2 linked regions of the Homo sapiens genome follow. The protein of the gene in region 2 binds, or shares a complex with, the protein of the main gene of each other region. Links are inferred from orthologs where the notes say so. Each region holds a gene or a part of one and is shown on either strand. Other genes may lie near its edges.

The links.
Region 1: the proteins of NUMB (region 2) and YWHAH are in contact, whole or in part, in a crystal structure (PDB 5YQG), measured with the Mus musculus proteins. The link is inferred for Homo sapiens from one-to-one orthologs. Residues at the interface, in NP_001129547.1 of Mus musculus: Gln274, Gly275, Ser276, Phe277; in NP_035868.1 of Mus musculus: Arg57, Arg132, Tyr133, Leu177, Asn178, Val181, Glu185, Ile222, Leu225, Asn229.

What each region holds. Positions count from the first base shown.
Region 1 is NC_000022.11:31,954,509-31,958,103, reverse strand, and holds the end of YWHAH (14-3-3 protein eta), read right to left. Parts: intron 1,966-3,595; coding exon 1,312-1,965; 3' UTR 501-1,311; downstream 1-500. UniProt on the Homo sapiens protein: Adapter protein implicated in the regulation of a large spectrum of both general and specialized signaling pathways. Binds to a large number of partners, usually by recognition of a phosphoserine or phosphothreonine motif.
Region 2 is NC_000014.9:73,455,287-73,463,023, forward strand, and holds the start of NUMB (protein numb homolog), read right to left. Parts: upstream 3,261-7,737; 5' UTR 3,207-3,260; intron 2,448-3,206; exon of another isoform or gene 2,343-2,447; intron 1-2,342. UniProt on the Homo sapiens protein: Regulates clathrin-mediated receptor endocytosis. Plays a role in the process of neurogenesis.

The sequences.
Region 1 (3,595 bases), on a different chromosome or scaffold from region 2:
GTGTTTAAGGGGTAGGTTAGGCTTTTTAACTCAATGAGGTTTGCTTTTCTATTTTAAAGAATACTAAATGCTTAACAATAATCACTAAAGATTTCAGGGGTGCAAGTTGTGCCCCTAGTATCTTATTACATTAAGAAAACTTGAGGACGTGTATAAGCTCCGTATTTACCTTCAGTGTTAAATACACTCTCAAGTTCAACAGAGCCCACAATGTTTCAGAGGTGCTATACTGTGGAAGACTGCATTTTGTTCTGCGAGGCTCATTAAAAAGCACCAGTTATCAGGAAAATTGATCAGAGAGGCTATGTTAGCTGGGTTCACAGAAAACTATTTAAAATCTATGAATCCTATGTGTGTGCTGCAAAATATGTAATGTAATGAGAGGGGAGGAAAACTTGGATAATGTACTACAAATGCTTCCATGTTTGAGAGATTCAAACCACAATTTGTGACTGGTTAAACAGTTCCTCGAGGGGGGAAAAATCAAGACCAAACAGAGATAATATCCCCAAAGCAGCATTTATTTACCCATTGAATTCCAAAACATTTATTTTAGAAGTCTGGCATTTCATAATCACCCATCTTGATTGACATGGGCTGACACACATGGCGCTGTCAGGATACACAAGGACAATAGCCAAAGAGTTACAAAAAATAAATCCATGATTCTTAAACAATTGCAACCAAAAAAAAAAAAAAGTTACAAGTATCAAAACTTTCAGATGCATTGCATTGAAAAGAAGGTTTGTGCACGTCATAATTTAAAGAGGCAAAACCAAGGAGCTACTGAAACCTCACGTTAAACAGTTTATTATAAAGCTGATGGAAAGGAGCAAGTTGTCTCTCTGTATCAGCTTCCCTTAACAGTTTTCCATTAATTGAAGAAAGAGGTGGGAGGGGTGAATTCATTTTTGCATGCACAAGATGTACTGCTTAACGAAACACTATCAGCTTGTTTTAAATGGATCTTTTAAATATCAACTGTAGCCTGGTTGGCTAATTCTTTCTAATCTTCCCCATTACTTTCGCCTAGATTTCCCATAGATCAACAGGCATAGTAAAATGCCTCATCAGAACACACTTCTCCACACAATTCAAAAAGGGAGCTCCTGTGGGCTCAAAGCAACCATCAGTCCAGCAATGCCCATGATTTATCTGAAACTGCTTCCCAAGAGACAGGAGTGCAGATCTGAGTAGCTGTGCTGCCAATACAGATAGGTTTAGCACTAGATATTTAGTGATTGTGGCAAGGAAGAATCGGTGATGATGGGGGTGGTGGGTGAAGGAAGGGCCAGGGGACCTGAAGGATCTTCAGTTGCCTTCTCCTGCTTCTTCATCCTGCTGGTCGCTCGTCCAGAGGGTGAGGTTGTCTCGCAGCAACTGCATGATCAGCGTGGAGTCCTTATAGGAATCCTCGTTTAGTGTGTCCAGCTCAGCTATGGCATCATCGAAGGCTTGTTTGGCTAAGAGGCAGGCTTGCTCAGGTGCATTCTGGATCTCATAGTAGAACACGGAGAAGTTGAGGGCCAGGCCCAGCCGGATGGGATGCGTGGGTTGCATCTGCTCTTTGCTGATTTCAAAGGCTTCCTTGTAGGCAGCTTCAGAAGCTTCGACCACACTGTTTTTCTTCTCCCCAGAAGCGACCTCTGCTAAGTAGCGGTAGTAATCACCCTTCATTTTCAGGTAAAACACCTTGCTCTCATACTGGAAATCATTGCAGTTCTTGATCAGGAACTTGTCAAGCAGAGACAGGACATCATTGCAAACTGTCTCCAGCTCCTTCTCAATCTTCTCCCGGTAAGCTTTAACTTTCTCCAATTTCTTTTCGTTTCCATCAGCCATGGTTTTCTGCTCAATGCTGCTAATGACCCTCCAGGAAGATCGCCTGGCACCAACCACATTCTTGTAGGCCACAGAGAGGAGATTTCGATCTTCATTGGAGAGAGGTTCATTCAGCTCTGTCACCTGCAAAACCCCAAAAAGATAAACATTGAAAGCAAAATCTGAAAATCTTGGTAAGAAGCCTTCCCTTCAACATAATCAACAATCCTTCTCAAGAACGGAATTACGAACAGGTCAGTCACTCTGGAGAATAAAAACCACCCATGGATAAAACCAATATAGACATGAACCCTATGTGAAGAAAGACTATAGTCTAACAGAAGAGATAAATACTTGGCACCCAAAACAGAAAATCATAGGGGCTTGAGAAATTCATAATTCGGGTCTGATAAGATGTTGCTTTCACCTTGGTAGAGGAATGGGACTAAGGATAATTATGAAAAGGTTGTACAGCAGCAGTACATAATGGTGAAGAAGAAAACCTCGAGCTTCAGCCATTCTGCAAAAGATACTCTGAACAGGCCGGGCGCGATGGCTTATGCCTGTAATCCCAGCACTTCAGGAGGCCAAGGGCGGGCAGATCATGAGGTCAAGAGATCGAGACCATTCTGGCCAACATGGTGAAACCCCATCTCTACTAAAAATACAAAAATTAGCTGGGCGTGGTGGCACGCGCTTGTAGTCCCAGCTACTTGGGAGGCTGAGGCAAGAGAAACTCTTGAACCCGGAGGTTGCAGTGAGCCCAGATCGTGCCACTGCACTCCAGCCTAGCTAGCGACAGAGCAAGCCTCCGTCTCAAAAGAAAAAAAAAAAAAAAAAAAAGATACTCTGAACAGTAAGATCGTACGGTCCCTTTGTCAAATGTTCAAAGACAACAGACTGGAAGTGTTCCAGACTCTGCTTCCAGCTTTATACTCTGGAAAGAACCAACCACTCCTCAAATACACATTAACAGATGGTGGGGCTTCACAGATCAGATGGAACATCACACAGATCCAGTGGCCAGAGCTTCGCCCTGTGTGGCTACACATGGAACCCTAACTGATACTCCCAGCCCTCTCCCAAACCAAAATGAAGAACAATTCATAAGTGACATGAAAGTACCCCCAGCTCCTAGTGAAAGGAAGCACAGCTACTCAGCAGGAAGTTGTACTCTGACCTACCTCACAGGAAACTCTGGTCATCAAGGATGGAAGCATCAATTATTTTAAGTGGAAGAGTTAAATTTCACAAGCTTTAACTTCCCTTAGTTCTCCATGATGCCAACTACAAGTGAACTAGCTATGCAGTTAGTAGGAAGAGCATTATTAGACTTTGCAGTGGTTGAACTGTATCCCCCGCCAAAAGATACGCTGAAGTTCTGACCCTAGGTTCCTGTGAATGTGAGCTTATTTGGAAATAGGGTCTTTGCAGATGTAATTAGTTAAGATGAAGTCATACTGGACATTAGGGTGTGCCCTAAGTGCAATTACAGGTGTCCTTATAAGGATAGTGAGATTTTGACACACACACAGGAAGAATGCCATGTGACAGTGGAGGCAAAGACTGGAGTGACGCATCTACAAGCCAAGGAACACCAAGGGTTGCCAGAAGCCACCAGAAGCTGGGAGAGTGCCTAGGAAGGATTCTTCCCTAGAGCCTTCAGAGGGAGCGTGGCCTGCCTACACCTCACTTTCAAACTTCTAGCGTCCAGAACTATGAGAGAATACATTTATTATTTTAAACTATCCAGTTTGTCGTACTAGGTTCAGCA
Region 2 (7,737 bases):
CTTTCAGTTTTCAATACTGCTTCCTGTTCTTAACAGCCATAAAAACAGATCTAAATCAACTCCTAAATATAAACCATCTAGCTTTCAATGGAAGAAAAATCAAACCACGTACAGATAAAACATACATATTCTTTTTAAAAACACGCTGTAAATTACATTTAGGTTCCTCAAACAAGTTAAGTTTACAACATGTACCACATCCAGTTTATTCTCAAGGGAGAAAACCATTAAACAAAAGCTCCCTCTTAATAAATGATTTACTTTGTAGTTAAGCCTCTATCCCAGGTGCATTTTGCTGTCACATATTACCACTATTTCTTTTCTCTACAAAGACCTAGAAACTGTATATCTAGTTCCTTTAAAAATATCTGTATATGTTTTATATTAGTGTAAGGATAAGAAATACTTAATATTTTTACTCTCTAAAAAGGAAATATCTTTTCATTTTTCTCTTTTGCAGTGTTTCTTACTTTGTTTTTGCTTATTTTCTATACATGAAATTTTCTCAAGTCAGTCCATTTCAGTGTTGTTTACTGTCAATATGTCTGTGTATACTCAGGCTTTTACAAACAATGCTTTACGGTACAGTGATAAAAAAGAAAGGGTGAACAAGAGGGCACAAGTGAAACAAAAGCGGACAACATCTGAGAAACACCATTCAATTTCTCTGCCTCAGATTCCCTTAAGTTCTCATGCCAAAGATTCTCAATATCCAAAAAAGTTCCAGAGTCAGAGGCATAACACAATATGTGACAAGACAAACACAGGAGGAACCAAATCAGAAACTGAAGAAATTTAATGGAATATAATACTCCCAAAAAAACCTTTTTTTTTTTTTTTAAGATGGAGTTTCACTCTTGTTGCCCAGACTGGAATGCAATGGCATGATCTCGGCTCACTGCAACCTCCACCTCCGGGGTTCAAGCAATTCTCCAGCCTCAGCCTTCCAAGTAGCTGGGATTACAGGCACGCGCCACCACGCCCAGCTAATTTTGTATTTTTTTTAAAGATGGGGGTCTCACCATGTTGGTCAGGCTGATCTTGAACTCCTGACCTCAAGTGATCCGCCCGCCTTGGCCTCCCAAAGTGCTGGGATTATAGGCGTGAGCCACCGCACCCAGCTTTCAGACTTTTTTAACTGTAAGAAATATATTTTATCCTTTGGCCAGGAACTCAAAAAAAGAAATACACTTTACATTGTGACCTAGTACATACATGTAGGAGAAAAGTTTCCCAAAACAATACTTTTCCTTACCAAATGCAATGTCAGTTTATTCTGTTCTACATTTTATTTTCAATGCAGGTAAAAACTCACAACATTGATTTTATAAATTACTAATAAATCACAATCCACAGTTTGAAAAACACAGGCTAAAAATGAGTATCCTTTATAATAGGATCTTTTAGGCAATTTGCCTCTACCTGTCTCTTTAGCAGGTATTTTAAAGTTGCTACCATTATTACCGGTTTCATTAAAGTAAGTGGTTCTTAAAGTGTGGTCCTCTGACCAACGTGATCATCATTTGAGATAAATATAAATTATTGGGCCCCACCCCAGACCTACTGAAACCCCCAGGTGGGGCCAAGCAATCTACATTTTACCAAGCCCTCCAGGTGATTTTGATGCAAGCTAACATCTGCGAGCCAGGTCTTTACCTTCTATTTAAGAAGTCAGGTCTTTATCGTCTATTGAACAATCCAGTACACACGACTATGTGCCAGTCACTATCCTAAAAGCTCTACAAATACCAACTCACATGAAAAAAAAAACACCACCACCACCTTATAAAGTAGGAACTATTACTATTAGTATTCTGATGAGGAAACTGCACAGAAACTTAGCTAAGTGGTGGAACTAGAACTCAAAACTTCTTTTCACTTTAGCCGAGTATGCCTACCCTCTTTCTGATAAGTATTTACTTCTACTCCTTTAGTTCAGCTACTCCTCCCCTTTTCCCTCCCAAATTCCCCACCCTGTCAATGAACCTATTTCCTAATATTACTGCCATCATCCTAAAACAAATTTCTTTTCTAAAACAAGTCACTTAACCTTGCTTTTAGGAGCTTTGCTTTGGTCCTAGATGTCATCTTGATATTAATTACGAAACTGAAGTTTCTTCTATTTGTGAAGACCTGTGAACCTACATGGCTCCACTGTTAATTTCTCATATATCTACTGTCCTAGCCAGTTCCACGAAACCATTACTCTCTCCTCGGGCAACTTTCTTTCTCTACCTTATCCCCTCCTATAGGGATTCTCTCCCACCTCCGCCCATCTCCGTCCCATTTTGCATGACTCCTCTCCGACCGAGGGAACTTCCACTCCCCTGCTGGCTCCTCACCCCGGTCTCAAACGCGAGCCACTCCTCGAGGACTTCTTTCCTGGTCCCTTAGGGATCCTCAGAGCCGGAGCGGCCAGGCCAGTTGGGTCTCCCATCCCAGCTCAGCTATGGGGGCGCAGGGAGCTCCGGTTCTTCCCCCAGGCGGTGCAAGATCTCTACTCGTCCGACCCTCCGAAGACCTGCTGCTCCTCATCTCTCCAGGAGCCCCCTCCCTTGGACAGCCGCTTTTCTCAGGAGGGTCCCCAACCCCCTCCGAGCGTTTCCTCAGACGCCCCTACTTGGAGCAAGTCTGCTCCCTGTCACCCGGGACCCTGGCCACCCTCGGCCTTCCTACCTCCCTCGGACCGGGGCCACTCCCAGTTCCCCTGCCCCCCACCCCGCTCTCTCCTCACCGGCCGCTGCCGGGCTTCCCGGATTCCTTTTCTCCCTGGCACCCAAGCCGTCCTGGGTATTCCCAAGACACCCCGCCCTTGAAGCAGGTCGTTACAGGTCACCCCCTCTCTGGGACCCTGGCCGCTTCCGTTTCCTCAGATACCTACTCCTCACACAGTGGCCGCCGGTCAGCGCGCTAGACCGGAGCAGCTGGACGTCCCAAGGGACCTCCTGGCCTGACCCGCGCGGGTCCGGCCGTAGCCTACCTTCCTCGGGAGAACTCCGCAGCCAGAAGCCCAGCCCCTCTCCCCCTAGCCCAGTCAGCGCGAACTCGCCGCCGCCCCCGCCGCCTCCGCCCTGGCCCCGGCCCCGGCCCGGGCCCCGACCCGAAGTCCAGGCCCCCTTCCTCCGGCCTCCGCCTCCGGAGTGCTGAGCTGGAGATTCCGCCCCGCGACGGCCCCCAGATCTCTGACCCGCGTTACCGGCACTCACCTGCCGCTGCCCCCGACCAACTCAAGCGCCACTGCCTCTACCTCGGCCGCCAGTGGCCACCAAGCGCCACCACCTCCCCCATGACAACAGGCCCACCCTCTTTCATACTTCTAACCTATCCATTGGATAGTGGGGCGGCAGCTCTCCTCTCTGATTGGTTTAGTATACCCGCCCGTCATCGCTCTTTACCGCCCCTTTTCCTAAACCCGGTATTCGCCCCCGCCCGGACCTGGAGCGTCCTAGCCCAAGCTTTAGTTGTAATTGGTTGAGGGTTGGGCAATTCGAAGTTATGATAGGCTGCTAAAAGTGTCTGTTAAGCTAACTGGCAAGAGACGTGACGGTTAAGGTTGATTCACGCTTGTGCACAGTTTGGTTGCGCAGTAGAAAGCAAAGGAGGGGCAGACGCTCACATTCGTGGTTACCCGGGAAGGGTTAAGTCTTTGTTGTAGAGTTTTCTCTGTAAACTTTTCCACTTCTCCAGCTCACTTCCTGCAAGGAGAAGCTTATCTCTGCTAGCTTTATTCATAGGGGTAGTACTTACAAAACACCAACATTAGAGGTTGTGTTTAAGAAGTGTTTCCAAGCCCTGGGGAGAAAGGTATCAGAGAGATAAAAATGTCCCCTTCTTTTCTTTGGTCTCAATGCATCCAATTTCATTGAAGTTCTTTCCAGGAGCCTCAATGCTAAAGGGCAAAGCGCAAACTTTCATTTAGCAGAAATCAGTCAACTTCGGTTGCAATTATAAATGTCGTCAATAAACTGAAGTGGCGTATTGAGAGTTCTCCAGCTTCCAGATCCACTCCTGGCTGACCCCTGCCAATTGACCAGACAGCCATTAGCAACTTTTTTTTTTTTTTTTTTTTTCTGTGAGACGGAGTTTCTCTCTTGTTGCCCAGGCTGGAGTGCAATGGTGCTATCTCGGCTCATCGCAACCTACGCCTCCCAGGTTCAAGCGATTCTTCTGCCTTAGCCTCCCGAGTAGCTGGGATTATAGGCATGAGACGGGGTTTCTCCATGTTGGTCAGGCTAGTCTCGAACTCCCAACCTCAGGTGATCCGCCCGCCTCGGCCTCCCAAAGTGCTGGTATTACAGGCGTAAGCCACCGCGCCCGGCCAGCAACTTTCTAATAAGCGGGCCACATTATACCCTTTATGATGCTCTGGAAATGAGAATTCTGCTTTCCCCCACCTCTCACTGCCACTTTGTTTTTCTGTTCAGCAGTTCTTAAATAGCCCTACTAGCTGTGTGTCAGATACTTTAAAAGCTTCTCTCTCTCTCTCTCTTTTTTTTTTCTAAACCTCTTCCTAGCAGTCTAAATTAGGGCCATTGAATGAATTGCCGGGTTGTGTGTGTGTGTGTTTTTTTTTTTTCCTCACTTGGCACAATGCACAAGAATAAATGATTGCATTTTTTATTCACTTGGGTACAAATCACAGTAGGCATTTTTGAGAAATCTAATGTTGCTATAAAAACTCTTGTGCTCCTAGAAATATATTCATCATTAGCTTTTTGTTTTTCCTTTTTTTTCACCCACTTTTCCTGCTCCTAAATAACAAAATGCTGGTCTGATTACTCTTTCAGTTTCTAAATCAGATTTAAATGTACTTTCTCACAACCCCACCTATGATACATATACCCATGGGCCATGAAACAACACCCAGGGATAGTTTAAGACACTGTCAGGCCGTGCGGTGGCTCATGCCTGTTATCCCAGCACTCTGGGAGGCCGAGCCGGGCAGATCACCTGAGGTCAGGAGTTTGAGACCAGCCTGACTAACATGGTGAAACCCCTGTCTCTGCAGATGGTGCCACTGCACTCCAGCCTGGGCAACAGAGTGAGACTCTGTCTTAAAAAAAAAAAAAAAAAAAGACACTGTCAAGGAGGCATTCACCTCAAGGATGTGGACTTTGGAAATGTGCTTTGTCTCTTTCTTCTTTCTGCTAACCCTTTGTCTCATATTTCTTCTATTTACTAACCTCCTTGTTCTTTGCAGAGCAAGCTACAAAGAGTCTAAAACTGTATGGTTTATTATTCAGAAAAATATTGTCTTTTTTCTAGCCTATATTTTTAGTCAAGTTTAAATAAAGTACATACTTCTATCACCAGACTAAGCAGAAATTATTCCTCCAGTAACTATACATAACAATAAAGTGCCTTTTCCTAGTTATTTTCCGGAACTTTCCTCCCCCTCCTCTCTTCCTCACCTTCCAATTTAGAAATAACCTCCCATTCAATTCAATGACTCACAAAAAGCCTGTGAAAGGAAAGTGGAAAAGCCAAAATAACTTAGAGATGTCTGAATCATTCAGCTGAAGGAAAGATCAGACATTGACCATGATAAGATAGACGCCAAGACATAAGGCAAGCCTGAGCTAACATCCCATAACATGTGAAGTAATGCAAATGTGAAGATGCCCCAAGAAAAAGCAAATACCAATATGTCCTTTTACACAGCCTTTTAATATATCACCAGCAGCTTGCTTCTCTCTAGTCTTGGCAGTGTGCCATGCTACCAATTTTAGAGCAAGTTAGAAGACAATTAATGTCCTGACAGATAGGAAACAATAACGTCATAGGAGGACATGACCATTATTATGGTACTTTGGGTAATAATGGCTCTTGCACAGCCATAGTGACTAGGTGCCATAGAAAACATAGAATTAGGCCAGCCTTGCTAAGAGGACTTGCCATCTAAGTTGAAGAATGCAGCGAAATTACTATCACAAAACTGGGTGGAAAATTGTCACAAAAGTCAGCCGCTATTTCATACACTAAAAAAAAAAAAAAAAAGAAAGCATGTATAAATGCTTTTGCTCATATACACACATCTATCATTCCTATTCTTTGTGAATATCAGTTAAGAAAGGACATATAAAATAAATATGTTACAACCCAGTAAGTAGTGGGAAAACCTTAAGGAAGGTTTCAAGGAACATGCCTTGAAATAACAGAAGGCTATTGTGTTATCAAAGACTGTGCAGTACCGGAGGGGTTATTGCTTGTATCCCTACATTTTGCTTTCACGTGCACAAGGTAACCCTATCATGTAATTACTCCATCCAGCTTTTTTCTTTTCTTTCCTGTGTTTTTTGCTTCTCTACCATTCTCAGGGCTCCCTCTCAGAAAACAAGAACACTGGAGTCTGGGAGTCTGCAGCTTCCTGTTGCATGGCTGGCTGTGGAGGTCCTGCAGATGGTATCTGTTCAGAGCCACTTGGGCACGACCAAGATGGCAGGTACATTCGGGGCAAAAATAGCATTTATAATCCCAATTAAGCAGAAAATAGAGGACTCAGAGTGATGTCCAATATCTGAGGAGTGATATAGTGTGCCTTGGGCTTTCCTGTACACTAATGCTGTTTCTCCTGCTCTTTCATAATGTCACTTTTCAAGGGAAAAGAATCCAAGTCTCTTTCCATTTCTATTTTAGCCCACAGGGGCAATCTCACTAGGGAAAGGATCCATTTTTTGCTTTTGGATTTTCTTCCTCTGGATTCTACACACGATTCCAATTCCAACTAGATTAGAGAAATAAACAACCGGTGGAGAAGAAAATCGCTCAGATAGCAGACAAGGGCCAGAACTGCCTGCCACTAGCAGTTGGAGGCAAGCCAAAATATTTGATAAGAGGTAGCTTCCTGAGTTAGGGATCCCTGAGGGTGGAGGCTGACAAAGATGAAGGGATTAGAGAGAAGGGGAGGGAAAAGGAGGGAAGAGGAGGAGATGAGGGGGCAGGAGAGAAAAGGGTAAGAAAAGCTAGAAAAACAGTCAAAAAACCCAATCAGAGTGCTGAGCCAGCTTACAGTCCTGCCTTGCCTACCCCCTATCCCCACCCATGTGGACTTTACACTAGGTTGCATAATTACACCAGCAAAGTGCAGCCTCTGCCACTGGTTAAAAGGGAAAGCGTGCCAGGCTCCAGCCTATGGGACCGTTGTTCTGCTGCCACCTGGAAATCCTCCCAGAGCTCAAAGCCTGCTGCTCTGGGCAAAGCTGACAAGGAAGGACAGATTCAGCAGCCAACCAAGGAGCATACCTTCATTTGATTTCCTTAAGGCAAAAGCACTGGCTAAACAAAGGGAGACTATCTGGGAGAAGGTGTTTTCACCCTTTCAAGCTGGGGTGCTTTCACCACCGGGAAGTGCCACGCTGCTTTCCACGCTGGAACAAGGTACTGTGGTTTCAAAGTTCAAGGCTCTGTTTCAGGGATGGGAAGGAAAAAAAAATCAGTGAAAGAAGGTGTTCTGGTCTCTCAGGCAGAACCATTTGTTATTTGATTCCAGAGCTCATGTAATTTTTAAATACCACACTATGCATTTTCATTACTAAATGCATTCATTTTCATCCTCAAGAAAAGTGTATGCCCCCTTCCGCCTGCTTTACATAATATGGCTTGAGCGCTTGTAAAAATGGATGGGCTGTAGCTCTGAGTTCTGCCATTGTGCTATTGACTGGAGCTCCTGGTTACTATCACCAGATCTATGGGTGGATCAGCCATTCTTCTGCAGCAGGGAGTGGACCGACTCAAAGC